2 separate regions of the Homo sapiens genome follow, and region 1 is linked to region 2. The links come from fine-mapping of genetic effects on gene expression. A gene starts in region 2. The other region holds a variant in brackets. All regions are shown on one strand. Distances are from middle to middle.

The links.
Region 1: its variant is fine-mapped to the expression of TP73 in whole blood (TOPMed, PIP 0.97).

The regions. Positions count from the first base shown.
Region 1 is chr1:3,672,107-3,674,999 of GRCh38, reverse strand. The region is part of intron 1 of TP73 (tumor protein p73); the gene reads right to left. Among named protein-coding and RNA genes, the nearest start is that of TP73-AS3, 4.6 kb to the right of the region's middle. RefSeq lists an enhancer at 1,072-1,291. The variant G/A (reference allele first, on the strand shown) is at 1,311.
Region 2 is chr1:3,651,000-3,653,892 of GRCh38, reverse strand. TP73 (tumor protein p73) reads right to left here and starts at 1,377. Exons shown (of 14, transcript NM_005427.4): 1 at 1,252-1,377. RefSeq lists a silencer at 817-1,766 and an enhancer at 2,726-2,893.

The DNA of each region.
Region 1 (2,893 bases), 21 kb before region 2:
GGGAGGAGACCGTCTCAATCCCCTTGTGCCCTTTTCCCAGGGACTCAGGCAGGTCCCAGGACCCAGAACCCAGAAGAGCCCCCGCCTGGGCAGAGGGGTCGGGCGGTCAGCGCACCAGAATGAAGCCAGGCAGGCTGGCCCTGTGTGAGACAGCGGCTCTCCCAGGCAGCAGCCCAGCGGAATTCCTGCAGGGCGTCATCAGAGCCCAGCCTCCTGGGGCCCTCTGTGCCAAGGGGCCTCACTCTCCCCTCCAGCCACCGCAAGAAGAGGGGCCGCTCTCGCTTGGCAGGCTGGGGCCAAGGACAGGGGTCCCCCGGAGTGAGGGCCAGGAGGGCCTCCCTCTCAGGGGCAAGGCCCTCTGCCAGCATTGCCTGCCCCTCCCGACAGAGGCTAAGGACCATGTGGCCTCCCTCTGTGGGTACGATGGGGCCAGGTCCTTCAGACAGGGTTGCCAGGACGGCTTCGTCAGCAGGTCAGGGGCAGGGACGAAGGCCTGTCCGCAGGGCCTGGTGAGGAGGATGCGGCTGAGAGCCCCCCTCACCGCCACAGATGGCACGCCTGCTGCCCCACTCCCCTAGTTTGGGGAAGCCCAGCATGGGGATGAAAGACAAACACAGCCTCCCACGGTGGGGTAGCGTGCACCGTGTGAAATATGCGGACAGCTGGAGGTGCCTGAGCAAGCTGCCCTCTCTCTCCTGGGCCGTGGCCCACGGGAAGCGGGAGGGGAGGGGAGGCAGATGCCCAGGACAGTCTGGGGGAATCCCTGAGCCTCACCCCAGAAGCTTTGAGGCCATGACCAAACCAAAATGCCCGACCCCCCGTGGGTGGGGGTGCCCCCAACCAGCTTCCTGGGTCAGTTCACACTCAGCCAAGTGAAATGTAGAAACACCAAAGCATGGCTAATTCCCGGGGATTCCAGCCACCCCACGACGGCCCAGTGAGGCCACACACCTGTTACCAACCAGGAGACATGCACAGAGAGGGAAGACCAGCCCTCCATGGGCACACAGCTGGTCAGGGTGGAGGTCGAACCCAGCAGCCTGGCTCTACCCTGGCCTGACCTGGAGCTGAGCAAGGGAGGCACGGGCCCGGCTGCAATCCCCTCCCCAGTCCGTGTTCCCACCGCACAGCCACACCCCGCACCCTGCCTGGGAAGCCCCTCTCTGGAAATCCCCTGCCTGTCCATCTATCTTCACCGGTACATTGAGGCCCAATCCACATCCAGACATCCAAGAGGCCCGCCTTGTCCTCTGCTGCCTGCCCAGGCCTTCTTGCTGTCATATATGTGTTTGGGTCATACCAAGACACAT[G/A]ATTCCTGCCCCACCGCTTCGTGCCCTGAAGCCCAGCACTGCCGGGCACACACTCCAGTTCCCTCTCCTGCTCTGCCCACGCAGCCCACCTCTGCCGCGCTCTAGCTGTGTGACCTCAGATAGATGTCTTGCCCATTCTGAGCCTCTGTTTCCTTGTCTGTAAAATGGAGATAATTGTAGTGCCTCCTAGAAGCGCTAGGTGGAATGAAGTAACTCTACGCATATCAAAAGCGAAAGCACTCCTCTATCTGGGCACACCGTGGATGCCCCATAAACCGTATCGAGTTGCCATTGACCGACGGTTATTTAGTATCAGGTGGTGGCAGTGGAGGAAGAACCAATGAGGCCCGGGTCCCAAAGGCACCAGGCTGAGCGACAGAACTGCACACACGGGGGCGGAAAGGTGGGGTCTGCTGGCTGCCGGGTCCCTGGCTCCTTCGAGTGCCTCTCCATTTCATGGTCAGCACGCGTGTCTCACCCCACTTTTACAGTGGTCTCCGCACCCTTTTGCAGAGCACCAGCCTATCCTCAGTCTCTCAGGGAATGAGGCGTCCTCGAAACGGGTAGTGCCCAGTTGCAGCGGCAGCCGGTGCCAGCTCCATGCCCGGGGGCATGCAACGCGGTAAACAGATAACCCTGGCCCACTGGAGGCAAATCATGTATGTCTGTGAGGCCCTCAGAGGCTGGGTATGAGGAGGGTGGGTGGTGGAAGAGAAGTCTGCACCCCAGCCCCAGCTTGCTTGCGCCTTGGAGTGGGCGGTGCTCCTGGGGGTAAGCGGGTCAGGAGGGTTTGGAGGTGGGGTCAGAAGCATGAGCGGCCTGATGGGCTGAGCTTCCTCTAAGAAAGGGGTGGAAGGGGTGGGCAGGGACATGGCCCTTGGGGGGACGAGGTTGGCGGCAGGAGGGAAGTGGGGCCCTGTCAGGGAACTGGGGCGCTGAGCTTGGTGATGTTTCCTGCCAGGAGCCCACCTGTTAGAGGAAGGGCGACCCTGGCGGGGGTGGTAGGAGCAGATCTGTCACTAAGGGAGGTTCAGACCAGCACAGTGGGCACAGGAAGAAGACCCAGAGGACCGACTGCCAAGGATAGGGGGTGAGGGGTCCAGGGCTGGGACAGAGCGGAGCTTATGGCCAGAGTGGGTGTCTGAGTCGATACCTGTGTTCACAGGTGATGAGTACAGCGCTGCCCTCAGCAGGGCAGGTGACTGATGGGGCCGCAGCCGCCTTCGCTGGAGCTGCCACAGCCTCGTTCTGCACAGACACATCCCTGTCCTCTGCCCCCTCCGATCCTCCTCTCACACCCCCTTTCTACCCCAAGGGATCACACCGGGTGTCACTAGCCTTTGTGCGGCCAGCGCCCATGTTGGAAGTGCCTGTGCTGTCCTCCAGAATCTTCTTTCTTTCCCCAGAGAAGCACTTCCACTCCTCCAACCAAGAGAGAATGACCCTTCTCAAGCTGCTGTCCCCACCTGGCCACCCTCCTCTGGACACCCTTGGTGGGGATGCTCCACTCTGAGATGTCCCCACCCTACACATACCCCTCACCCCTGGCTCTGGGCTTTTCTCTAAGGGGTCTGGGACACGCC
Region 2 (2,893 bases):
AGCCAACTTTTTATCTTATTTTAAAAACTACATACGTAATGCATACATTCATATATGGCAACATTTCAAACACCGTGTCCTGTTCTTAATGAAATGCTTTTTAATCTTTCCCCGAATAAATCCAAAGAGGGGTGGCTCAGCGCTCAGTAAGTGCCAGAGGCCACGCGCTTTGTTTACTCCTCCCCCAGAGCTAAGGCTGAACAAATAAACAGCAATGACAGCAACAAAAAACAAAACAACAAAAACCAAAGCATTGTGTTAATGAGCCTGAGCCATTTCCAAATGTCCAGACAGTGAATAAACAGATGGCAGCATCTTTGGAAGCAAATGACCTCTGGTCAGAAGTTTGGGGTGCATTGCTTTTCCCTGCACCCTTGCTGGTTGAAGATCGTCTATCTGTCCCCTGTTTATGTAGCAGACGTGTGCATACTACATGGGCTTATCTCCTAGCGTCCAGGCCAAAATACAAGCTGAGCAAAGGTAATCATCGCTCCCCAAGTCCAAGCCCCGGGAAAGGCAGGGGCTGCAGGAGGAGGCGGCCCAGGAGCTAAGGGGGCGTGAGGTGTCTCCCTCCAGGCCGGCCCGGGCCATTTCTTCACGGGCTTTCTCTACCTGGGACCGCTCCGGAGACAGGCCAGGAGCCCTCGACAGACAAACTCAGAGCCACAGGGAGCTGTCCCTCGGGAAACCATCGAAACCGCTTAGTAACCAACTCCATGGGTCAAGGCCCCCGCCCAGATCCTTCTCCCTGTCCAGAGGGGGGCCTGGCCCTGGCTCCTCAGGGAAGCTGAGGCCTCGGGATTGGCACAGCCCTGCAGGTCGGAGGGAGCGCGCGGGCGGGGAGGAGCTTGCTGGCGATTTCCACCTGCACCCGCGCCCCGCACCCCGGCCTCTTCCCGGGGTTACCCTCCCAACGGCCCTCGGAGCCCGGGGTGGAGAGGGGACAGCAGGAGGAGGGCCCTCCCGGAACCCCTGCGGGGCTGTCTTTGGCGCCAAAGGCGGCCGGCGCTGAGGGCAGGACCCGCGTCTCCTCGCAGGCTAGACTCTGGCCGCTCCAGCCTCTCGCGAGCGCCAAGTCCCAGGGGCCGATCCAACTCCGAGGGAGCCCCTGTGTCGCCTTGTCCCAGCTCGTCCCCGATCGCTCTCCCCTCACCTCCCAGCTTCGGAGCTGCGAGCCCAGGTGCCTGCCCAGCGCTGCGCTCCAGCCCCCGCCCGCGGAGCCGAACCGCCCCCCGGCCCTGGGCCTCCTACCTGCAGCCGTCGCAGCCCCGGGCATCGGCGTCCGTCCCGGCTGGCCTGGCGCGGGCCCCGGTTTCGCTGCGTCCCCTTCGCGGGCGCGCGAGCCTCCGGGCGGGTGCGCGGGCGGGGAGGCAGGGCGGGCTGCCCGGCCCCTAGGCGGGTTATATGGGCGCGGGGAGGGGAGGCGCCGCGGGGAGTAGGCGGCCGCGGGCGTTAGCGCCTTTTTAGCCCGGCGCGCGGGAAGGCAGCGCGGGCCACCGAGTCGCGGCGGGGCCAAGGTCTCCTCCCGGCGCTCCGCCTCTCCAGCTGGCCGCGTCCAAGTCGGGGTCCCGGGCGCGCTCTGCCCCGCCTCCTTCCCGCCGCCTTTTGGCGCGCGTCGCTCCTGCAGAGCCCGGCGAGGCCGCCCACGCAGGGCCGAAGCAGGTCCGGCGCCAGGGCCCCTCCCGCGGGCCAGACCCGACCGCGATCTTCGGCAGAGCTGGGGACGCCGGTGCCGACTCTGTGCCCGACGCCTGCGTTTCCCCCGGACTCCCTGCTGTCCCCCAGACGGCCCATCTTTCCTGACACCCGGGTCTCTCCTGGCCGCCGCCACTAGCGCTGGGCTCCTCGGCGCGCGGGGCGCTTGGAATCCAAGGGGCAGGGGATGTGGCCGGCGGGGAACAGGGGTGAGGGGCGGGGAACAGGGGTGAGGGGCGCCGCCCCAGGCCCAGGAGGAGGGGAACGGCTGCTTTCCGCCAAGCAGGGCTTGCCACCCACTTCTCCTGTGGAGCCACGGTCCCGCCCGGCAGAGGATCCCGCGGAGAGCCTCTGGGGGCTGCTCTCCCAACCCCAGCCGGAGTTTGGGCCCCACGTCCTTCCAGGGGTCACCCAGGACGCGAACACTCCCGGGCGGCGGCCAGCACCCTGCTCCCTCCCCCGGCCGCCGCCTGTGGGCTCGGGCTCTGGATCCCGTTCGGTGTTTGGAAGGAGCTCGCGGGCGTCGGTGCGCTTGGAGTTGTTCTCTGCGCGCACCAGACCTGCGCTAGGTCAGGCCGAAGCTCTCTACCGGCCAGCGACACCCGCCGCCCCGCCCGCCTGCTCCTCCTAGGCCATCGGGGCTTCCAGGGCCCTCGACCACGTACACCAGGCCCTGGCTAGGGGACCCGACATGCTGGGCGAGTTCCGAGCGGCTCTCAGTGGCGGCGCTGCTTATGGTCTGATGCTTATGGGGCCCGTGATCTGGCTCCGAACCGATGTCCTCTGCCCATGGTGACCCCCACGTCTTGGAAAGTCGCGTCAGTGAAGCCCGTGGCTTCGCGAGCGAGCCGGGCTGGCGCAGACTGGGTTCTCTGGCCGCAGCGGGTCCGCGCCTGACGGGGAGGGTCCGGCTGACTCGCACATCTTCATGGCTCACCCACTGTTTGCTGGGCGCACGGGGTGGGGACCCAAAGACGAATCCCATGCAGAGGTTTGGGTCTAGTTTTGGCAACAGAAAAGGCCGGCACCGCCGGAGTAGGACGCGCGCGCACCACCATCCATTCGGCCGGGGAGGTTGGGGCGTCCGCGGGGAGCAGACCCGAGGCTGGGCGCCCGGAGGTACGAGCAGGACCCTGGCCGGCTCTCAGCTCCCAGAACCCAGGGCCAGGCGGGGATGTCAGGGTCTGCGCGATCTGGG